Homo sapiens: one gene and its partners. The protein of the gene in region 3 interacts with the protein of the main gene of each other region in a pairwise test. Each region holds a gene or a part of one and is shown on either strand. Other genes may lie near its edges. The genes, in order: MSRB3, DDIAS and EFEMP1.

Region 1 (8,534 bases), on a different chromosome or scaffold from region 3:
TATCCCTTGCACCTAAAATACAATTTAAAAAGATAAAAAATGCAGGTCACAGAGGATACACAGCAGATGATAACTTTTATTTATTTATTTATTTTTAGATAGAATCTCACTCTGTCACCCAGGCTGGAGTGCAATGGCACAATCTTGGCTCACTGCAACCTCTGCCTCCCGGTTCAAGCAATTCTCCTGCCTCAGCCACCTGAGTAGCTGGGACTACAGGCACGTGCCACCATGCCGGCTAACTTTTGTATTTTTAGTAGAGACAGGGTTTTGCCTTGTTAGCCAGGCTAGCCTCGAACTCCTGACCTCAGGTGATCCGCCCACCTCAGCCTCCCAAAGTGCTGGGAATACAGGCGTGAGCCACCACGCCCGGCCAATAACATTTATATAATGTTCTAACATATGCAAAACTGAACAATATGATATAGAGACATACATCTATGATAAAACTATAAAGAAAGCAAGGTTTATCAGTTATTTGTGTTCAATGATAATCACAAAATATAGGACTATGGGTACTTCTGAGTACAGGAAATGTGTGTCTCACAGGCATCTTTCACATTTCATTTCTGAAGCTGGATGAGGGTACCCAGATTTTTTTAAAATATTCTTTATACCTTATATAGACACTATATATTCTTTTTTGTGTATAAAATATTCTCTCATAAAAAGGACAAATCTTATAAGTGAATTTTACAGGCAAGAGAAGATACTTTTTAAAATCATCAAATTAGCCAAGTTTTTTTCTTTAAAACTCACAGTGAAGTTTTTTTTAAAAATAAGACCAGATTAACCAACCTTAAGAGTTAAATATATTTAATAGGGTAATCAGAGGCAAATTCCAATGGTAATATATCCTGCTAAATGAGGACTTTTCTCATCTGAAATCTATTGTCAAGCATAAATAAGCAATTCCCAGCTGTACATTTAGAAAGACATAATTTCTAGTCCTTAATACCATTACTTCAGATGGGATATTTAATATGATGCTTCTGATACATTGTAATCTATTCTTTAAATACTAAATCTTTAAAAGGGTTATGTAACTTTGCCAGTAGCTCAAATTACTGGGCACACTAGGCTACGAAGTTCAAACATAAGATCTTAGATGCAGTGTAACACTTATAGTGAATCGCACAAGATAGTCAACTTGAACAAAATATTTTTTAAAAAGACATAATTTTGCATACTGTATTAACTATATTTTTCCATTAAAAATTACAGAAAGTTGGAGACTTTAAAATAATCCTTAAATTACAGAATCTTTTTTTTTTTTTTTTGCGGGGGGGACGGGGTCTCGCTCTCTTGCCAGGCTGGAGTGCTGTGGCATGATCTTGGCTCACTGGAACCTCCGCCTCCCGGGTTCAAGTGATTCTCCTGCCTCAGCCTCCTGAGTAGCTGGGACTACAGGCACACACCACCACGCCCAGCTAATTTTGGTATTTTTAGTAGAGATGGGGTTTCACCATGCTGGTCAGGATGGTCTCAATCTCTTGACCTCGTGATCCGCCCGACTCAGCCTCCCAAAGTGCTGAGATTACAGGCAAGAGCCACCATGCCCAGCCTACAGAATCTTAAAGCAACACCAGGTATTACCCAGTCCAATTCATTCATTTTGCAGATATGAAAACTGAGGCACAAGAAGCTTAAACGACTCAGGCAAAAACAAGACTAGAAAAACCTAGTTTTCCAATTCACTGTCAAATGTTCTTTTCATAATACTACACTGACTCCCCTGCAACACAAACACATACACAAGGATGCAAATATGTAAATGAGCCTATAATTTTTCAAGTGGCTCTGCACGCAGGTAAACATGCTCTGCCCTCAACCCTCCTCTTCCTGGCCCCCTAAGGCGATCTGACTAGAAGGCATATTCACACCCCACAAAATCAGAAACAAGGGGGACTACAGTGCACTTTTTCCTTTTTGCTCTCAATTACTGTGAGACCAGAGTTGCAAAACAACTTGTGGCTTTTCACCCATTTCCCTATCTAATCTGGACTGTTACAGGAAGATATGACCTTACCTTTCCTTAGCTACACACCACTAATCTAAGATAAAATAAGTATTCACCTATAATAGGCCCTATAGTTCTCTCTCAACCCCAACCAAACTCAGGTTCTCTGACAATCAAACACAATAAAAACAAAAGAAATGTACTGGGCGTGGAGGCTCATGCCTATAATCCCAGCACTTTGAGAGGCCAAGGTGGGAGGACTGCTTAAGTCCAGGAGTTCAAGACCTACCTGGGAAACATAGGGAGACCCTATCTCTACATAAATTTTTTTTAAAAAATTAGCCATGCATGATGACACAAGCCTGTAGTCCTAGCTACTCAGGAGGCTGAGGTGGGAGGATCACTTGAGCCCAGGAGGTCAAGGCTACAGTGTGCAGTGTGCTATGATCCTGCCATGGCACTCCAGCCTGGGCGGCAGCCAAAAAAAAAAAAAAAAGAGAAATGAAAGAACAAACATAAAATTTAGGGCTATCTAATTTATACAAAGACTGTCCTGAGTTGTTTTTCGGTTTTTGGTTTTGCTTTTTTTTTTTTTTTTTTTTTTTTTGAGAAAGGGTCTCGCTCTGTCACCCAGAATGGAGTACAGTGGTGCAATCATAGCTCACTGTAGCCTCGAACTCCTGGGCTCAAGCGATTCTCCCACCTCAGCCTCCAGAGGAGGTGGGACCACAGGTGCATGCCAGCACACCTTGCTAATTTCTTTTTTTAATTTTTAGTAGAGGCTAGGTCTTCCTATGTTGCTCAGGCTGGTCTCGACCTCCTGGCCTCAAGTGATCCTCCTTCCTTGCCTCCCAAAGTGGTGGGATTACAGGCATGAACTACTGTGCCTTGCCTGAGTGTTTTTTTTTTTTTAATAGATTCTACCATGTAGCACAGGCTTATTTTCAATAATGCCTTAAGTCTTACATATGTACTGAAAGATGTTTTTGTCTTTAAATAAAATAAGTGACCCAAGAAACCATAAGGATTTGTTATGTAATTTATAGTAACAGAAGACATGTCACGGCTATAACAGAGACCTGTAGGTGTATACTCACATGCAAATCAACTAAATTTCACTTTAAAATAGCACTGTAGTCCCAACAACAATGCTCATATACCTAAAAATATAATTTTTAAAAAGTATTTATTTATTGTATCTGACTTCTAATCCATGAGACTATTTAAAAGTCCAGTCTTAGTATAAAGTACATTGTCTGGCATAACATATATAAATTTTATTGTAAGAGGATTCTGAGAAGGTGTTTCCCTGTCATTCCAAAATTTCCGCTATGGCTCAAATTTTCAAATAGAAGTTTTCCCCCATACCCCACATTCTAAAGTAAGAGGACAATGAGATACTCAAAGTTGAGACCAGAACTTCCTGAGAGTATCCATAAAGCAAGAAATCAAGTGTCCATAGACTCTATAAGTCATAATTTCCACATGTATACTTTCCAAATATATGAGAATTTTTTTTACATTTACAAGAACTTATTTCAAAGTTTTATAGTAGCTTTTGCTGTTACGTATTTTCTCAGTCAACAGATACTAAAAACATAGTTACTACTACATGAAAGGGTCTCCATTATTTTTAAAGAGTTGGAAATTACTCAATACTATATACTGTATGTAAATGTGTCACTTTAGACAAATGTTATGAATAATATACTATTTTTATAAACCTAGAATCAGGATATACCATTCGCCTGGGAACTAGACCCTAAGAAAACACTTCCTGGTTTTTTGGGGATTTTTGTTTGTTTTCTGAGATAGGGTCTCACTCTATTGCCCAGTCTGGAGTGCAGTGGCACGATCTTGGCTCACTGCAACCTCTGCTTCCTGGGCTCAAGCAATCCTCTCACCTCAGCCTCCTGAGTAGCCAGGACTACAAGCATGCAACACAATGCCCAGCTAATTTTTGTAGTTTTTGTAGAGATGGGTCTCACTACGCCGCCCAGGCTGGACTCAAGTGATCCACCCGCCTCAGCCTCCCAAAGTGCTGGGATTACGGGTATGAGCCACCAAACCCAGCCGAAAACACCTCCTATACCAGCATTCTTTCTCTGTTTCACCTATATTCATCTCCACATTTTATAAACCTCTTTAATCGTGTAAATAAAGCCCTCTCATAAAATACATTCCCTCAACTTTCCTTTAGGAAACCAAGTATCAATAAATAGCCCTGAGGTTTCCACATCAGCACAGCTGGGTAACCCAATCACAGCAATGCCCAGTAACAATGCTGCTCCAGGCTACCACGGCCAAGTGTCAGAGATCAGGGTATAGTGACCGGAGTGGCCAACTCAAGTAAGTGTACAGGAACCTTGCAGTCAACACTTGAAGAGATAAGGCAAGCAAGGAATTCTGTAAAAATGAGGGAAGTATGTGATTTATCATTATTTTTCATTTTACATTAGGAAGTTATCAATAATTATTTTATGGATAAGAACCTGACCATGGCCACAAAAAGTAACCATAAAGGACCCCAAAAAAGTATAAAGAGTACTCCATCTGGTGGAAATCATATCTTCTTCACATTCTGTCCAGTCTTGGGGAAGAAGAGTGAGGAACGAGGAGGAGTGTGAGACACAATGTGTGTTCAAATTGGTGATGATGAAGACATTTAGGAGTCAGTCCTTTATCTGAAGAAAGATAAGAAGCCACTGAGGGAGGGTTAAGCAGGAAAGAGGGGAAATGATTTTGTAGTTTAGAAAGGTCATTCTGGATGCAGTATCCTTTGTCCAACACTTCCCATGTATTATCTCTCAAGTTAGTAAATGTGATGTCCCCTCAACAAGGAAAGCTCGTGAACAGAATGCCATATACCGACTCGGCATCTTTTAAAGTCAGATCAAATTCTCTCTTCTCTATGATGCTTTTCCTGTACCCTTCCTTTTACTCCAGCTAACAAATGCTCTCTTTTTCTCTTTATTTTTAACTCTCCTTACTCATACATGTTTTATTTCCAGCCTTGATCTCTCCCTCCAAGTTCCAGTTTCACACTTCGGATTCTACTACACATCTCCACAGGAATATCCTACCAGCACCTCAAAAGCAAGAGATCTAGAACAAAACTTATTTTTACCTCCACCCACAAACCTGCTGAGATCACATTCTCTCCATCACCCAGGCTTAACATCTCATGTCACCTTTTATTCATCCCTTTCTTTCCCAATATCCAATTGCTTATTTCTGTCCAATGTACTTTAGCAACACTTCTACTGCGGTGCCGCTATTCTCGTTAGGTCTTCATTCCTTAAGAGAAACTCTCAAAACACTTCTTTATTGGTCCTATGACTTATTTCCCAATTTAATTAATTATCTAAACTATTGGATTATATAACCTATAATTCACCTCTGATTATGACATTTCAAGGATCAAAAATGTCAGTCTCATAACTTACTAACCCAATCCAAGTTCCCTAACAGCATTAAAAGCCTTCCACTTAATTTTCCATATTTGTACTTTATTGTCCCACTATTCCACTTTATACATGCTCATTTTCTTCTACACCTGTCCTCTCTATCTGATCTGGTAAATTCTGGGTGCTCAACAAAAGCTGATTTCCTTCTGTATGAGTTGCTGTCCTCTCCTTCCCCCTGCCATCTCAGTTACAGGAAAGCATCCTATCATTTGTATATTCCCTCTTCATACAGGAAATTAGTGTTCATGGAAAAGCATGTAAAATCTAGGAAACAGACAAGTATTAAGAAAGAAAAGCAGAGTGATTGAACTCCAATTTCAAAAGAAGACAGCAGCAAGCAGGATACCATAAAAGCATCAGAGTATCTGAAAAAGTCAGAATTGTTATACCTGGAACAATGGATGCTCAGAGCCTATCAGAATTCTTCTAGCTGAGTGCAGTGGCTCATGCCTGTAATCCTAGCACTTTGGGAAGCCAAGGCTGGCAGATCACTTGAGGTCAGGAGTTTAAGACCAGCCTGGCCAACATGGTGAAACCCCATCTCTACAAAAAAATACTACAATTAGCTGGGCATGGTGGCAGGTGCCTGTAGGCCCAGCTACTCAGAAGGCTGGAGTGGGAGAATCACCTGATTCTAGGGAGTTCGAGGCTGCAGTGAGCCATGAGTGTGCCACTGCACTCCAGTCTGGGTGACAGAGTGAGATCCTATCTCAAAAAAAAAAAAAAATTCTAGGTGATTCACTGACATATGGAATTTATAGTTTAGTGAAGTTGAATATATATGGACTTAACTACAACACAAGACAATATAGTAAAACTTGTACTCCAACCATGGTCCAAAACACCTTAGAAGCACAAGGAAATTACAAATTCTGTGGTATGAAGAAAATGTCACAAACTACCATCTGACAGAGGCCTTAAAGACTTCAACCTGTTGTGATAGAGAAGAGGTCCAGGCAGTAGGAACAGCCTAAAGGAAAGGTAGAGACAGAAAATGTTAGATATGTGTGAGAAATAGGAAAACAACTGATAAATTCTCAGTCCCTAAGCTATTACTGTTTCAAATATCTCTACCACTTATAGTTTTAATGAACTTATCCTAAAGAGCCACTGGAGGTCAGCATTTTATTCAGTGAATTCCTGAAAATATGCAGATGATTATTTGCAGAGTGAATTAGTTGTTATCAGAGAAAATGTTCACAATTCATTTTAAGGACTATAACCTCATAACATAAAATGGAAAAATGCAAAATCAAACCATCTACATGGCTGTACTACGTACATCAGATACTCTAGAATTAGAAGAGACTTTAGGGAAAATCTAGGTCAACCATGTGACCTAAACTGTGTCTATCAGGTTCTACCTCCCAGGAATTTAGGATCAAGGCTCAATAATATAGTCCCTCCTTATGAAGGGACACATAAATACTCAGGAGCTGCTGAGCAGCCACATCTAACCATGAAGAGAAAAAAAAAAAAAAAAACACCAGCAAAGAAAAAACAGTGAAGCAAACTAGAGACAGGGAATGTTCTAGATTTTTCCAGTCCCTTATCTCAGGCCCTAAATGAGGTCTGCCTGCATTTGACTTCCAATGGTTTTCCAACAAATTCCTTTCTTCCTTTTTGCTAAAACTAGTTCATTTCTGTTACTGCAATAGAAGCTTAAATGAGGCAATAACCAAAATCTTTCATAAAGTCAATTGTTCGATGCGTTTGTTTGATCTTTTCTATACTTTCCTTTTTTGTACTTCCCTTAAAGCCATAAACATGACTTCAGCATACTATACAGACAAATATATGAACATGGATGAGGGACTGTGCTGAGCAATTTTTTTTTTTTTTTGAGACAGAGTTTTGCTCTTGTCGCCCAGGCTGGAGTGCAGTGGCATGATCTTGGCTCACTGCAACATCCGCTTCCCTGGTTCAAGTTATTCTCCTGCCTCAGCCTCCTGAGTAGTTGGGATTACAGGTGCCCACCACCATGCCCGGCTAATTTTTGTATTTTTCATAGAGACAGGGTTTCACCGTGTTGGCCAGGCTGGTCTCAAACTCCTGACCTCAGGTGATCTGCCTGCCTCGGCCTCCTAAAGTGCTGGGATTACAGGCGTGAGCCACCACACCCAGCCTGTGCTGAGCATTTTAAAAGGAAAACCCATCATGGGCAGGAAAGAGAAAATACAGAATATTCAAAGTAAATCCTTGAGATACAGCAAGAAGAAATGCTAACTAACAACTGGCAAATTAAATAGCTGATTACCCTTCCATCCAAATCCAGTTTAATTCTGCTAAATCAGATAGGTAGATCCAATTCAATCTTCTCTGAGGTAAGATCAAAAGGTGATAACCCATTATAGGCTATTTCATCTGGAATGCTCACAGATAACTAGCCTTCCCAACCACAGAAATGTTTGGATGCTCTCTGGCGGTATCCCTAACCCAGACCTAAATAACAAAACTGAATATCAAACTGTCTTAAGGCCTGGGCTTAACTATCCCCAAAAACCAGTTAGGCATTTACCCTATGACATAATCAGCACTTTCTGCTATTAGATGAGGAAGAAAAAGTGATAGAAGCTTAACACGGAATCTGTCCAGGTATGTATGTATCTTTGTGCATGTTCCAGGTATTAACACAATCCTGAGACAGATCCGGACTCTCCAACACTGGACCACACCCATCACATCTGGCTAAGGTAGGCCAGTTTGACATGTATAGCAAGTCACAGGCTGACAATCAGAAGTTTGAACCACATGTAGTAGGTGGCTCTGAAGAGTTACATAAACAAAAACAACATTATAGGATCTTGGAGTTAGAAGAGACATGGAAACTGTCCAACTTAATAATTTTACCGAGAAGCTAAACATGGGAATCAAATTCATCAACCAAATCCATAACTATGATAAATTAATTATACAGGTGCAGATAAATTAGAGGGATTGTGACCAGATTATGACAGAACCAAAAATGCAGTGGTGTGATCACGGCTTACCACAGCCTCGATCTCCCTGGCCCAAGCAATCCTCCCACTTTGGCTTCCCAAGTAGCTGAGACCACAGGAGTGAGCCACTATGCCCAGCTAATTTTTTTTTAATTTTTGTAGAGACAG
Region 2 (8,534 bases), on a different chromosome or scaffold from region 3:
TTAATTTTCACTCTCCTGCCTGCCTCTCTTACTTTTCTAGAATTTTCGTGTCAATGTTACTAAATTATTTTTTAGGGACTTATTATGACTGCCTTTAGAAAAATTAAACAAGTATGTGCCATTGGAGGAGACCATTAGACAGTGTTAAGAAAACAATTCAAAACAGCCACCCTTCCCATAGCTGAGGCCTCTTGGCCTGTAAAATATGAAACAGAAAATTGGAGAATTACAAGGTGACAAAGATTTTCATGCAAGGCAAGAAGGGTTTGGAGAGGAACGAAGAAAGGGAGAAAAATTAGTCATACTTTCTTTTCTTTATGCCATTAGAAGTGGAACTAGTTTTTTAAAGGAGTAATTTCATCCTTTGGGCACAGTCTTGAAGCAAATACACATAGTTTCTTTCAAGTGTGAAGCTTGAGCAAAGAGAGTAATGGACTAGAAAGACTGGTAAGCTACTCATCAGAAGGCATGAGTTCCAGACCTGATTAACTTCTCTGAGTGGATCAGATAATGTTGCAAAAGCACTTTGCAAACTGTAAAGCAGTCAAATGAACTCAAACTGGATTATGAACTTTAAGATAGGATTCACATCTTATACTTTTATGTTCTCTTCAGCCCCATCCCCAGATGCCAGTTTACACTAAATACTTAATTGAACTTTTTCTCTAGGATCTAACATAGAATAAGAATTAGTTTAGATTTTCTAATCTAACCCAGTTTTTCTAGATCTTCTAGTCTAGCCGGAAGAAGAAAAAAAGATGTGTTGGTATGTGCATGTATGGGCACGGTTTTTCATAAATGATTAAGTTGCCTTCTGAGAACTTGATTATGAGGTAGTTAAGCTGAAAGATCACCAAATAATGGATTAGAGTAAAGAATTGCAAAATCATCCAAATGAGACTAAGATGCTGTCAGGCCTTGGGGATTTAACTATAACCATGTTTATCACAAGTGTTACACACCATGAGATAGTCTCAATGACTAGGCTACTGGTTTTCAAGTGTGGGCAATTTGGCCATTACCTGGGAACTTAAAATGCAGATTCTCAGGCCCTTATCCCAGACTTACTGAATCAAACTCTGGAGTTGGAGCCCAGCAATCTGTTTTATCAAGCCTTCTGGGTGATTTTGATATATGATAAAGTTTGAGAAATACTTGTCTAGTATGAAAATGGGATGCAGAGGTTGTAATCAATGAGTTTATATATCTGGTACCACTGACAAAACCATCTCTAGAATGAAAAATGCATCAGGCATTAGCTTGATTCCATTAAATAGTTGATTCACCAAACAGCTCTTCTTCAAGCAACTTTCTGTTTATAATTTTAGTATAATATGAGGTTATACCAAATATACAAATATGGGCTTCTGATATGTCCCTTCCCTGTGATGGTAATTTTTCGTGGTAAATTAGTAGAACATCTTTGGATTACAGTTCAGCTCCCCATATGGCTTGTCTAAAAGGAGAGAAAGCAAGTATTCCAGAATATCCCATGGTAAATTAGATATGTACTATAGTGTGTCCACATGGACCCCACATATTTTAATAAGCATAAGTCTATTGGAGCCTTCATTCCTGGACATTGACCTAGGTAATCCCTGGTATGTGCCCTTTGAAAAATCAAAGGCCAACTGAGGCCTTAATTAGTTCTGCCCCAACACTTACACTTTTGTCCCTCTTTCTACCCTCATTTCTACTTTTATGTGTGAGAGATTTAAAGAAAGCAAGATTTTCTTTGTATATTATTGCTAATGTCCCTATCCAGCATTTTTATAGTATTTATTGATTTTTTTCTAATTATAAAAGCAATACACTTAGATTGTATTTATTGATTTTTTCTAATTATAAAAGCAATACACTTAGAAAATATCTTAAATATATAAAGAAAATAAAAATCGCCCTTAACACTACCACCCTGAGAAAATACTTTTTAAAAATAAGATTATATACTTTCCTAACTATCCTCTTCTCTTTCCCCATTCCTCCCATCAAAAACTAAATTAGTCCCCCTGTTATATTTTCTCATGGCACTATGCATTTCCAAAATAGAATTTGCCAGAATTGCAGTTAAATTTTTTGTGTGATTATTTTAATGTCTGTCTCTTACACTAGACTGTAAGTCTAGTGACTAGGTAGGGACCTTGTCTGTTTGTCCATCAATCACACTATCCCCACCTAGCATTTAGCAGCTGCACAACTAATAACTGATGAATAAATAAATATGTTCGCATATTAAATTGGGATATGGTTTGCTGTGATGGAGCTGAAAGAAATGTAATACTATATCATCATCCTTCCCAATAAATGTGAAAAGAAAGATAAACTGCAAAAGATACCACATATGAAATTGTTCCCAAGTGTATCATCATATCTTCCTAATTTTAGTATTTACTTATTCCTGATGTTTCATTCAATTATTCATCAGACATGCATCCACTATACTGCAAGTCAAGCAGTAGAGAGAGACAGAGAAATAAAACAAAGTATAAAAACACCCCCAGAGCCTAGGTAAATAAATAAATAAATACAAAAATAAACTAGGTGGCAAGTATGAAGGAAATATTATGAAAACACCAAAGGAAATTAATTAACAGTAACTGTCTGAAACGATCTTATTCTATTATTGTCCAACAGACAATAAATGGGAAGCCTTTTTGCCATTTTCTGGGGTTCACCAGGTGAAATACAAATAGTAAAAATACTAATGATCCCTTTCATTACAGTTCTCAAATTTGCTGTTTTTATAGATTTTTAGACTTACTTATTTGATCCACTAGAGGGCAGTAAACCCTTAAATAAAGACAATGTAACCAACCTTCCTTTAAAAGTATAGTAATAAGTGCTGGCACAATTAATTTAGAAATGAACCCAAAATTTCCTGCTTATTTAAGTTTTTCATTTATTAGTGAGTTGTCTGCCCAATTAGCAATTTTTTTTAGGACAGACAGTATCTTATTTTCACTTAGCCCAGTGTACGAGTCATGTTACAAGTTTATTACATTTCCTAAAGTTTGAATAACAATTGTGTAAAGAACATGATTTGATGAATGCCCATATTGTTGTGGTACAGTATAAAATTCTGTTTTAGAGCCCTAAAGAAAATAGTCTCTGCTCACAATATGAACAGAAGTAAAAAAATTAGAAGTGAGGATAAGATGTAAGTAATGATTAAAATAAGTATGAAATAAGGTACTATATATGAAACTAGGCTGTGTACTTCGTATACAAATAGAAGATAATTTTATGATTTGGTAAAATTGTGTTTTATATTTAACGCTATGTGACAAAATTGTGGCTTGGGAAGAGGAAATGCAAATCATGAAGATTAATATCTGAAGTTCAGATTGACAATTTCTGAGCTTGGCACTGAAGATATAAACAGATAGTCCTTCTACGATCTTACTTTGAGTCCAGGAAAAACAAGCCATATTGAACAGATAAATTTAATATAATGTGGCATGTGATGAATTAAAGAGTAATTTAACTTCTGGGAAAACGTCCTAGAAAAGAAGACTTCTAAGAAGGATCTTAAAGAATAATAAGCATTACCAAGAGAATGAAAGCATTTTAGAGAGAAGAATGGAAAAAAGCAAAGGCATAGAAATGTGAAACATATTGTGGGGGTGGGGAAGCAAGGAACACAACTCAGATTGTTTCTCTTGGCATAAATTACTAGCACATAAAGAGCAAAAAGAAAGTTAAGAGAATAGGCATTAGGGAGAATAAAACCAAATAGACAATACACTACAATAGACAAAACAAATGGTAGGACTACAGAGGTACAATAGTATATGGTGTAGAAAAAAAGAAAAGCCATTCCCTTTGTTAATAAAGAAAGACTTTTTAGGGGAACTTCAAATGAAATAGGAAGAAAATTCTGGTTATCGTATGGCGTCTGCCTACTCTGTTGTAAAAATTTTCTTGAATTGCAAAATTCTGCTTATAGTTCTTCATTCATGCAATAAATTTTGTTTTGAGACTAGTCTTTGTTGCCCAGGCTGGAGTGCAGTGGCGCAATACCGCGCACTGCAGCCTCAATCTCCCAGACTCAAGTGACCTTCCCACCTCAGCCTCCTGAGTAGCTGGAACTACAAGCATGCACCACCATGCCCAGCTAATATTTTTTATTATTTGTAGAGATGAGTTCTTGCTGTGTTGCCCATGCTGGTCTCAAACTGGTGGGCTCAAGCAATCCTCCCACCTTGGCCTCCCAAAGTGCTGGGATTATAGGCCTGATCCACCACACCTGGCCCCATTCAATAAATATTTATTGTGAACTTACTGTGTACTGAGCACTGTTCTAAGCACTGGGGTTACAGTAGAGAACAGGGTGGACTAGGTCCCCGTCTTTATGAAACTTAGGCTAGTGATGGGTAGATGAACAAAAATAAGTAAGCAAAGACATACATAGGATGACTATCCAGCAGGGTTAGTACCATGAAGGATAAAACAGGTGATGCCATAGAAACTAAGAGGAAGGAGGATTCTACTTGAGCTAAAGTGGGGCTCTCTGAAGGGATAACATTAGAGTTACAGATTGAAGGACAATAAAGAACCGACTATTCCAAGACCTAAGGGAAGAATATCGTAGCCAAAGAGAATAGTAAGCACAAAAGCCTGAGAAGGGAAATCGTTTGGTGTGCTTGAGGAGCAGAAAGAAGGCCAGCATGGCTTGAAATACAGTGATTGAGGAGGAGAGTGGTACAAAGTGAGGTCAGGGATTGGCAAGATCTACATGACCCAGGGCTGCACAGACCATTGTGAGATATTGAGGCTTCATTCTAAATAGCAGGATTTTAAGCAGGTAAGAGACAGCATGTTCAGGAGTGAGCTTTATGCTCTTTTAGCTCCCCTAACTCACAGGTAGATGTACCTCCATACTAAACCCTACACTAAATTGGATTTTAGAATGTGGAGGACAATGCCTTTGTTGACATAACATCATTTGTTATGTTAACTAAAAGTTATAGGAGGCCTTTGTTTTGGACTAAGCTCCTGCACTAGGCCCCAGTGGACCAGACTAAAAATCAAAATAGAGTCATTTATACTTAAAGTTCCACCTCACCAAATCAAAACTACATTGTTATCTGACCTTCCTAGAACTCAGAAGAGAGAAATAACCAAATTTCCCACATGTGCCAGTTTCAATTGTCATAACAACGAACTTCGCTCTGCCTTTGATGCTTACAACAAAAAGTAGCCTTATGTTAACCAGTTATTCCTGTATTTTTCTGTTCCTCTGTTCCCACTTTAGGAGGAAAGTAACTTTGAAATGACCAAGCTGCTTTTTGTTCTTTGTTTCTACTTTCTTTAGCCCTTCTCTTTCTGTAAAACTGAACTTCTCTGCTCAGCCCCTTGGGTCACTTACTCTATTTTATGGAATAAAGTATTTCCCGATTCTAGAATTGTTACAGGAAAGTAGTCCCAATTCAGACCCCCAGAGAGGCTTCTTTGATCTCGCACAAGAAAGAATTCAGGGCAAGTCCATAAAGTGAGAGCAAGTTTATTAGGGAAGTAAAGGAATAAAAGACATAGAACAGCCCCGAGGGCTGCTGGCTGCCCATTTTTATGGTTATTTCTTGATGATGTGCTAAACAAGGGGTGGATTATTTGTGCCTCCCCCTTTTAGACCATATAGGGTAACTTCCTGACGTTGCCATGGCATTTGTAAACTGTCATGGCGCTGGTGGCAGTGTAGCAGTGAGGACAACCAGAGGTCACTCTCATCACCATCTTAGTTTTGGTGGGTTTTAGCAGGCTTCTTTACTGCAACCTGTTTTATCAGCGAGGCCTTTATAACCTGTATTTTGTGCCGACCTCATATCTTATCCTATGACTTAGAATGCCTTAACCGTCTGGGAATTCAGCCCAGTATGTCTCAGCTTCATTTTACCCAGCCTCTAGACAAGATGGAGTTGCTTTTTTATTCAAACACATCTGACAGAATCATAAATAAAGCCAATTAAGATCTTTCACAAAATTGTTGTAATTTTGTCTTTTGACAGTTGCAATGGCAAGGAATTTGAGGTTTTAGCACTTACAATGGCAATTTTCTTTGACCCTTCTTTCTGCCTTTCCTTTGTATCCTGTATTACCTACCCTACCATGTCCTTTGAGATTGCCATGTAGCCTAAGGTGACAACCAAATCTAGGAATACATAATCGGCTTTGGCAGAACCTTACTAATGTATATATAAGAGTCCCAACAAGGATAGCAAAAAATTAGGATTAGCGTTCTCTTTTCTGTGCTCCCTTCAGTAATACAGATTAGTGATTTATTTAAATTATTTATCTTTCATCTGTAAATTTCCATCTTATTACCTTGAGTGGCAAGATTTTATTTTTATAGAAATGTTATTTTGATTGACTATCAGAATTAGTATCACTTTAACATCTCCCTTCCATAGTCACCACATTTCTATGTTTGTCATCATCTTTAGAGTACTATACCGAAAAGATTTTATTATTTTAAAACCAGTGACCTCCACTTTGTCAGTTTGCTGATGCCAGTGTCAAAAACAGCATCACCCATTTCAGAATTGAAAGTTTTTGCCATGTGTTTAAAAATGAAAGTTTCTTAATACAGCTTTATCTCAAACAGTTACAAAGACCTTTGTTGTAAGGCATGTATTTTATGTTATATGTTTTATGTTATGCTAATCCATTTAAAAAATTAGTAAACAAACCAACCTTTTTTTTTTTTTTTTTTTGAGACAGAGTTTCACTCTGTGGCCCAGGCTGGAGTGCAGTGGCATGATCTCGGCTCACTGCAACCTCCGCCTCCCAGGTTCAAGCAATTCTGCCTCAGTATCCTGAGTAGCTGGGATTACAGGTGCACACCAGGCTAATTTTGTATATTTTTGATAGAGATGGGGTTTCACCATTTTGGTGAGACTGATCTCAAACTCTTGACCTCAGATGATGTGCCTACCTCGGCCTCCCAAAGTGCTGGGATTATAGGCGTGAGCTACCACACCCTGCCACAGATCAAGCTTTTAATTTTTTCTCTCTCTCTCTCTTTTTTTTTTTTTTTTTTTTTTTTTTTGAGAACAAGTCTCACTCTTTCACCCAGGCTGGAGTGCAGTGCCATGAATACAGCTCACTTCAGTCTTTACCTCCTGGGCTCAGGTGATCCTCCCACCTCAGCCTCCCAAGTAGCTGGGACCACAAGCTCATACTACCACGCCTGACTAATTTTTTTTGTTTTTTGGAGAGATGAGGTCTCACCGTGTTGCCCAGGCTGAATTTTTAAAAAGAAAGTATAAAGAGGAGAACATTGCTACAGGCATACCTTGGAGATATTGTGGGTTGTGTTTCTGACCACTGCAATAAAGCAAATATTGCAGTAAAGCAAGTCACACAAATTTTTTGGTTTCCCAGTGCATATATTAATAAAATGTTTACACTATACTGTAGTCTAAGTATGCAATAGCATTATGTCTAAAAAATACATCTTAATTAAAAAACACTTTATTATTAAAAAATGTTAATGATCATCTGAGCCTTCAATGAGTCATAATTTTTTGTGGTGGAGGGTCTTGCCTCAGTGTTGATGGTTGCTGACTGCTTGGGGTGGTGGTTGCTGAAGGTTGGGGTTGCAGTGGCAATTTCTTAAAATAAGACAACATTGAAGTTTGCTGCATTGATTATTCCTTTCACAAAAGATTTTTCTGTACCATGTAATGCTGTTTGATAGCGTTTTACTCACAGTAGAACTTCTTTCAGAATTGGAGTCAATCTTCTCAAACCCTGCCACTGCTTATCAACTAAGCTTATGGAATATTCTAAATTCTTTGTTGTAATTTCAACAATGTTCACAGCATCCTCACCAGGAGTAGATTCCGTATCAAGAAACTACTCTCTTTGTTTATCCATAAAAAGCAACTCGTCATAAGTTCATGCCTTATCATGAGATTGCAGCAATTGAGTCACATCTTCAGGCTCCACTTTTTAATTCTAGATCTCTTGCTATTCCACCACATCTGCAGTCACTTCCTCCACTGAAGGCTTGAACCCCTCAAAGTCATCCATGAGGACTGGAATCAGCTTCTTCCAAACTCCAATTAGTGTGGATATTTTGACTTCCTCCCATAAATCATGAATGTTCTTATTAGCTTCTAGCATGGTGAAACCTTTTCAGAAGATTTTCAACTTACTTTGCCCAGATCCATCAGAATAAGCATTATCTATGGCAGCTATGGCCTTAGGAAATGTGTTTCTGAAATAATAAGACTTGAAAGTCAAAGTGACTCATTGATCCATGAGTAGAGAATGGATGTGTTAACAGGTATGAAAACAATATCAATCTCCTTGTGCATCTCATCAGAGCTCTTGGGTGACCAGGTGCGTTGTCAATGAGCATTAATATGTTGAAAGGAATCTTTTTTTCTGAGCAGTAGGTCTCAACAGTGGGCTTAAAATATTCAGTAAATCATGCCATAAACAGATGTGCTGTCATCCAGGCTTTCTTCTTCCATTTCTAGAGCACAAGCAGAGTAGATTCAGCATAATCCTTAAGGGCCACAGGATTTTTG
Region 3 (8,534 bases):
GGACAGACAGAGCTGAGACATTCTAGGCAGATTAATATGTGTCATTTCATGATATTTTATCAAGCACCTATTGTTCATCTGTTGAATTCAAACCCCAATGTTAACCACTGACTCTGCCTATATAAAAGTTAAACACCAGTTCTTGTCATCAGGGACATTATAATTGAGGGAATGTGTATATGATTACTTAGAAAGTAAAATGGAATTAAGTAAGAGATAGATAAGTATACTGGGGCATGTGGAGCAGAGTTGGGTAATTTTGCCAGGGGGATTAGGGAAGGCTGAAGGAAGGAAGAGGCATCTCAACGTGGCCTTGAAGGGTGGTGGTTAGATGGAGTTTTCATGGCTGGGGCAGGGAAGGCTTTCCAAGCTGAGAAATCAGGAAGCATAAACTATGGAGGGCAGCTTATCATCTCTTTCAGGAACTTGGGAGAAAGGTAAAGGCTAGAAATCTGGTTTCAGTAAGCTGAAGCATGCTGGGAGTGGATTATACTGTCCAGAGGAAGCACAGCACAGGAAGTGAAACTATGAAGTGTTCCACCTCATAGAGCATAGCAATTTTAGGACTGTAAGGAAAAAGAGGAAGTTAAGGAAGAGGCTGTCAGTGCAGGGAGACAACCCAGGAAAAGGCAATGCCAAAGAAGTCAGAGGGAGAGAGAATCCTGGGAAGAAGGGTTGTGTTTACCTCAGGCTGGACAAAGATTGACTTTAAATTTGGGAATCAGAAGCCTCCAGATGACATCTGAGAGAACAGTTTTACTAGAGAGCCATTACATTTATAACAACAACAACAACAACAATAAAAATAAAATTAATATCTACATCTCTATGTCTGTCTCCCTTTACATTTGAATAGTGATTTATATTTTATTCAATGTAAACTTTTTCTGAATCATTCCTTCTCCACAATGAGATATTTTTATTCATGAATTTACTCATTCCATAAGTAATTTACTGAATCCTTGCTGTAAGCCAAGCATGGGCTAGGTGCTGGGATATGATCTCTTTTGAATTCTCATACCCGGTGTTCTTTTTTAAGGGCCTTTATTGCTTTCTGCTTTGCATTATTGCAATCTGCATGTCTAGCTTAACCCTTCTATTAGCTTGTAAACTCCTTGAGGGCAAGGGTTATTGTACCCATCTTTTAATCCTTTCATCACCTAGCATTAATGCAATAGAGCATCTGGCTTTTAAGAAATATTAAATTGAACTAAGTTGCTCTTCACACAAACTGTGTGGAGGTAGGTGAGAAAGATATTTCCACTTGATATGGATGAAAAACAAATAAGGGTTTAGTGGCTCATTCAAGTTCATATACTCTAAATAATTCATGCCTTGACTTTGGAGGAAAAAAAAGTATTTTAGCTTCCAAACTGGCTAAAGTTATCTGGAACTCAAGAACAGACTGGGAAAGCTAGGTAGTCTCCAAGAGACAGTTACAAAAAGTGTCTTCTTGGGCTGGCTATGGCTGAAGAAAGAAAACTTAGATTCTTCAAATGAAATCACAATTGACTTATCCTTTCAGTATTTTCCACTTTTTTGAAGAATAAAGATGCTGTTTAGGTACAGGGAAAACTAATACTTATTTGTTATATGGAGTCCAACAGAAGCAAAAGACAACCTTATAATTTCATTTATTACTTCCATTAATGTAGAGCCTAGCATAATCATCACCTTAATCATTCTGGAAGATTTTTCAGAAATTAATACTCTCAAAATATTTGATGAGTGTGTGTCTATGTGTATGTGTATTCTTTTGTCTCTCTGTCTCTCTCTCCACACACACACACACACACACACACACACACACACAGTTTTCATTTGTATAGGCCTGTGAAATGAGAACAGTTATTTCATCCACAAAATAAGTCTTTTAGAGAAAGTTAAGAATCCAAAACTTTCAATTTCATTTTATTCCTGTGGACAAGGCTCAGAAGGAACGATTTCCGTAGGAGAAAGCAATTGCTTTATACTTTAGAAGAATGCTAAGTCTTTTTCACAAAAAATGTTTTGGCTTAACCAAACATTCTGAAGCTGCATATCTTCAATATATAACATTTAGGAATCCCCCACTTACAATTTTGGTGCATTTTCCACCTTTAATTACAATAGATATAAATGTTTCCACATAGATAGGCTAGGCAGGTCGGATCCCACCGTGCATTAATCTGCTTCTGTCTTTTGCTGAGCATCAAATCAATTTTTGATCAGAAACACATAGATATTTGTTTGAAGGACTCCAGAGAAATTTGTTAAGACATTCCACTAGCTAACATTTTCTTGCATGTAATATGCATGTTGAAAGTCTCAATTAGGGTTCAGTAAGTAAAATCATTGGAATGCAATGTTTTCCCATAATTAACATTTATAAAGTCTCTAGTAACCTGGAAAGGGTTATAAAGATGTTCATTGTGCAATGAACTACATTCTGATTATGCTCATACTCAGTGGTTGGAGTCTAGTCGAAAAATTGTGTGCCTATTATAAAATCCCAGGTAATGGATTTCCTCTAAGTTAATATTTTCCTGTAAAATCATGATATAGACTGAGAATCCCCAGTGTCTCCTTTCCTTGATCTTTCTTTTCTTAACAGGATCTTTATTGTCCTTGTGTGCCTTCACTCCAACTCTGATTAAAAAGGACTCTCTACAGAAGACGTACTACTGGTCACTTACATTGGTAAGTAAATTTCATAAAAACACCTTGACCTGTACAAGCTTTATAGTTTACAAATTATTTTTATGTATGTTATTCCACTAAATTCCCACAACTCCCTTTTCCAAATGAGGAAGCTGAGGCTCAGAGTAGTTTGATAATTTGTTCAAGATTGTGCAGACTGAATACAGTGGAGCTGGGATTCAAACAGGTTTTCTGTCAAGTTTGGTCATTTTTTCATTCTTTTGTTGCTTTGTGTAAATTTAAGTGTTTGTACTAGCTTTTCCAGGATTTTCTACGTTTTTGGTTTTATCTGACAGTCCTTTCCCTGTTAAGAAAATTTTCAACTACATGCAACATTGGAGGTAGGGTCCTTTTTTTTTTTAGATCTTCCTGAGAAACTCTGAAATCATACCATTGTGGGGAGCTGCCTCTTCCACTTACGTATAGGTGTGAAGATCATCTGAATGTTTATTTTGAAACTGGACCCAAGGTCATTAGCTATTTTGGGGCTAGTAGTTTTCTCTAAAATATTCAACTATATTTTACAACATATTAGGCTGACTTTTCTCAGCACCTACATTCTTACGCAATTTATAATCCTTGTGTTTTAGAGGGCTAAGACTGGATGGAGGTATGTTTAACTCACATATTGAGCTTATGCTCTAAACTCAAACTCACAGGTGAAACATTTTAATAACTGAATCTTTTCCAGTGGATGATTTGAAGATGTATCTCAAAGAGATGATGTAGGTTACATAGAATACATATCAATATTTTATTAAAATTATTTATCTTTTAAGGACGAAAAATGTCGGCATTAGCATAGAATCACCTCTTTATGAGATGTATATATTTTATGATGAACAGGGGAAAAAAGAGCTTAAATTGTATATTGAAAGTGGGAAAAATGAAAGTCTATAGGAGAATCCTATAACTTCCTCTTGTCTCTTCCTGGCTAAAACTAAATACCTAACATATGAAAAAAAAAATAAACTTACCTTGACATGTTCTACTTCTCACCACTTGGTATCCCTGGGGGCACATACATGAGAATTTCCCAGGTTCATTGACACATTGATATTGACACAGGTAGCTTGAGGTTCTGCATTCATCAATGTCTGTTGAATTAGACAAGAGAAAGGACACAGAGTTGAAAAGTTTGTGCACCACTACTTTGGATATATATATATATATAAATTATATATATATATAAATTATAAGATTTAAAATATCTATATTAAAATAATTATATATAATTAAAATTATTTATATTTTAAGGAGGAAAAATTATATCTACCTATATATATATAAAGAGATCTGGCTTCTTGTCCTATTCCTGCTACTGTGTGACTTGGGCACATTTCTTAAGTTGCCTGGGTTTCATATATACACACACACACACACACACACACACACACATATATATTTTTTTTGTTCTGCTCAACAGTCCAGAGGAAGTAATACACTTTTGAGGTGAGCTAAAGAGAGTAAAAATATTGCAAATTCTGAAATAGAAATACAAAACTTTATAAGCAGCTAAAAGGCAAATTCTAACAATATCAGCTTATTTCCCTCTATGACTTCATAGCACAAAAAGTTTTTCTTATCATGACTTTTACTGAATCATTGCTGACAATTTGGCTAATCCTGGACCTAACTACACTACTGAATGAATTGGCTTGTGGTTGACGGCCTTCATTTTGGACTCTGCAGACCCATCCAGGATGTAGAGTTCATGTTTGTCTTCTCAGAAATTGGGTGACTTTGAAGCCAAGTTCATTTGAGCTTTGAATGCCAAGTCCCCTAACCTGTGCAAGCTTCCAGAATGACAGCTTGGCAGGATCTGACTTTCAGGGGAAGAATGCTTTGCATTTCTGAATAGTGATGTCCCTACAGTTTACTCAGAAGGGCAGAGGCAGCTGTCCTGAGGTAGCCTCTTTCAGTTTTGAGTGTAATGGCATGATGTGAGGCCTCTCTCGGTGGGGTTTGAGCTTTGTGTAAAGCTGAGTGAACCGTGAGGAGGTCAGGGACATCAAGTGTCTGTGGCATCCCCCTCAGGATGTCTAATGCCTTTTGAATTATATAACGAAATGTGCACATGCAATGGACCCTGAAGGTCATGAATCTAGTTAAATGGCCCTCCTCTTGTTCATGTGGAAAGTGAAACCCAGGCAACTCAAGAAATGTGCCCAAGTCACACAGTAGCAGGAATAGAACCAGAAACCAGATCTCCTGATTTTTATTTTAATGTTTTGACATGCACTTGGCTATTCTGAAACTTAAATGTGCACACCAGTCACCTGCAGTTTTTGTTGAATGTAGATTCAGACTCAGGAGGTCTGGGTTGCAGCCTGAGATTCTGCATTTCTCATAAGCTCCCAGGAGGTGCTGACATACCTGGTCACTGGATAACACACTGAGACGCAACATGCTAGAGCACCCTTTCTAATTATTAGAGCCAGCCTGCACCTAATATTTCAGTTATTTTTATTTCTTTTCCTTTTTCTTGGTAACACACTAAAAAGGCAATGTAACAACTGAACTACATTAACTGGATTTTAGAACAGAATTCCCATGGGTAAGCGTTTGTTTTCATAAATGGGTACATAATCAGATAAAACAACAGCAGTCACAGGAATTGGACTTTATTCCATACTATCTGGGAAGAGTTTTACCTTCACAGTTGAGCCTGTCACTGCTTAGCTCATATCCTTGATTGCACTGACAGATGAATGAACCAAGAATGTTGTAGCACTGCTGAGCACATTGATTGCTGGCATCACATTCATTTATATCTGAAAAAAAGTTTTATATATATATATATGTATATGTATATATATACACACACATATATATATAGACTTTAAACATATCCTTACTCTTTTGTACCTACGTCATCTGCTGACAAGTGAGTAATTCCCTAGCTGAATTATTTGCCCTGCAGAAGCTCACTGGAGAACATCCATTTAGGTTTCATATTTGTTGGAACAACTACAAACGTCTGTCATATACTTCTTTTGGAAATACCGAAATATTTTTTCTAGGAATGACAGTTAGTTTGATGTTTGATGAATCTTTCCAAAGGAATTTAATGCTTCTAATAAATATACACTCCGGTATCGATTTTCTTTTGTTGTTCAGATACAAAATGCCAATTCTATAAATAATTGATATAAGACACTTATACTGATATGGTCTCTCAGCATGCTGTACTGAAGATTTATCTGTGCTATTTATTACTTTTTAAATGGGTTCTGTTAAATTCCATTACAATTATAACATAAGCCTTTGAGACCCATACGGAGTTTTGCAATGCTCTAAAGCACTGAAAATATTGTGAAAAGGCATTTTTCCTACACTAGATTTTTTCCATGTCATGCCAATCTTTTAATTGTGTGCCGTGACATTGCATTCTGAAAGGGGAGAAGAGGCATGTAAAAATCAGATGCACTTTCAGTGGAAAGTTTATATACTTGAACTTGTAGTAACCCCTTTGGCACTTTCAGCATTATATCACACACTGCTGATTGACTGGTGTATGTATATCAATTGATTTGTAGTTTTAAATTTGTTGATCTATCCACAGAGGAGAACTAAAACCAAAGTTAAAAAGTTTTCTGTTCACATCTTGATGTGTTTTAAGACACAGATTGGTTATTATCTTTTAAGCTTTATGATTGCTGAAGGGAAGTCGATGGAAACTATTTACTCAAGAACATAGAAAACTGGAAATACTGCAACATGGCATGGGGTTTCCTTTTGTGAAGACAGAAATCAGCAAGTTCTCAAAAGGCTTACCTACGCAGGTATAGTTGTTTGCTGCCAATTGAAACCCAGGACTGCACTGGCAATAAAATGAGCCTGGTGTATTCACGCATCTTTGGTGGCAATATGGAGGGATGGTACATTCATCTATGTCTAGGTTATCAGGCACACACACAAAGAGAACCAAATTATTGAATTAGCATTCTCTGAAAAGCATTATCTAGAAAACCTATGTAGAGAAAATCTCTTTTTAAAAGTAATAATTTCCTATTTTGTTAAAATTAGGGTATATGTATTTTAAATATACTTTGTATTCTGAGTTAAGAAGTTAAGAACAAAGACTCAATGTTCATGCCATTCAGTGGTAAATAAACTTGGTGGGTGGATTGAGATTTAAAGAAAACAAAATAATTGAGACTATTGCATATATATATAAGATGTCAGTTTGGGGAGCTAAAAGCTTATATATAATTACAGAAGTAAAAAAGAACTACTGAAGTGCATGGTGCAGCACAAAACAAAGAAGAAAGAGTTGTGGGCTGTGCTCAACTGGTGACCTTGGCTAAGTCACTTACGCCTTCAGTATCTTGGTTTTTCTTCTATAAGATGTGGATAGCAAGGCTTGCCATGTGTATCTTAGGACGTTTTTGTGTATCAAATAAAAGAACACTGTGGAAGAATTGGATGCTAAATAAGTTACCTCTTGAGAGTGCTCTTTTGACACTTTGATGAAGTGTTCCAGCCTGTGTCCTTCTCATATAAATATTTTCAACTATAAAATGCTCAACTAAGAACTTGCTAAGTAGGACTAACATCTTAGAAGCATAATAAAATTTCATTAATTCATGATTCTACACTTTGTGACAACTTCAACATGGCATGTGTAATTTAAAACAACCATTATGCATATACAATGTAATGCTATATAGTGACACTGCCTTGTGGTAAAACAAAACAAAACAAAACAAACCTTTATGCTGGGCTCTTTTGGTACTTTAATAACTAAAATTAAGTAGTGTGCTCAAGTGGCCTCAGGATAACCTGAGTCTGAATCTTTGTTCTGGCAATTACTAGCTTGGTCTTAACTTCTCGAGCTTGCATTTCCTCTTCTGTGAGTAGAATTATTGGGAGGGTTACAAGACATAATGTAGGCAAAGTTACTGGCACAAAGCAAGTAAACATAAATGGGAGCTAATAAGCTGCAAGATATATTTGATTTAACTTGAATACTGAAATAAATAGTAAGAAGATATTCACATGGCTTTTCCCCTTACTTTGGTTCAGGTGTCCATTCAAATGTCACCTCCTCAGGGTGGCCACCTTTCCCACCAATATCAAATAGGTTCTTCTGCCCTATCTATTCCCTTACCTTGCTTTAGACTTCTTTGTAGTCCTTAACAGTACTCGACATTGTGTTATGTGTTTATTTGCTTCTTGTGTGTTCCCTCACTATAGTGCATGACATTCTCCCCTTGAGGTGGAGGTAGAGGGTTTTTTGTCTGTTCATTGTTAGATCTGGAATAGGGCCTGGCATAGTAGTAGGTGTTCAATAAACATTATTCGAATAAATCGAAACTTCACACTAATTAAGAGCAATTTTAGCATAGTGCTTCCTAGTCCTCAGTACTATCATCAGGTGCTAGTATTGATAGCTAATTTGTATGAATGGTATTATACTTTCTAATAGCTCCACGAGGGCTATGAATTTGTAAAATTTGTTTACTATTATCCCAGTTCCTAGAACAATGCTTGTTACACAGTAAGCCCTCAATAACTATTTGGTGAATATGTGACGCATGTCTTCTTAACTAATAAACATTCATTGAACCATTCTTATTTGCTGGTACTGTGTTTGGCACCCCAAGTTTATAATGATAATCAGTATACATGTGTTCTGCCTTGTCTGGTATGAAAGACAGGCATGAAACAAATTATTCCATGGAATGAGAAGATCAACAATAGAAAGGAGTGTATGGGACACAGGGAGCACCATGCTACTTGAAGTGTGGCCTGCTGACTGCTGCTGGTTCATGGGCTATTTGGACCAGTCTGCAATGAATAAATACAGAAACTGAGAGTACATGTTTAGAAATAGCAATTTGACATTAGTG

What was found.
Region 1: the proteins of EFEMP1 (region 3) and MSRB3 interact in binary tests that used the Homo sapiens proteins (3 or more experiments, as listed by UniProt).
Region 2: the proteins of EFEMP1 (region 3) and DDIAS interact in a two-hybrid assay, tested with the Homo sapiens proteins (one study listed by BioGRID).

The regions. Positions count from the first base shown.
Region 1 is NC_000012.12:65,281,054-65,289,587, reverse strand, and holds part of MSRB3 (methionine-R-sulfoxide reductase B3 isoform 2 precursor), read right to left. Parts: intron 1-8,534. UniProt on the Homo sapiens protein: Catalyzes the reduction of free and protein-bound methionine sulfoxide to methionine. Isoform 2 is essential for hearing.
Region 2 is NC_000011.10:82,903,589-82,912,122, forward strand, and holds part of DDIAS (DNA damage-induced apoptosis suppressor protein), read left to right. Parts: intron 1-8,534. UniProt on the Homo sapiens protein: May be an anti-apoptotic protein involved in DNA repair or cell survival.
Region 3 is NC_000002.12:55,871,290-55,879,823, forward strand, and holds part of EFEMP1 (EGF-containing fibulin-like extracellular matrix protein 1 precursor), read right to left. Parts: intron 6,577-8,534; coding exon 6,457-6,576; intron 6,397-6,456; exon of another isoform or gene 6,328-6,396; intron 5,454-6,327; coding exon 5,334-5,453; intron 3,777-5,333; coding exon 3,657-3,776; intron 2,680-3,656; exon of another isoform or gene 2,594-2,679; intron 1-2,593. UniProt on the Homo sapiens protein: Binds EGFR, the EGF receptor, inducing EGFR autophosphorylation and the activation of downstream signaling pathways. May play a role in cell adhesion and migration. May function as a negative regulator of chondrocyte differentiation.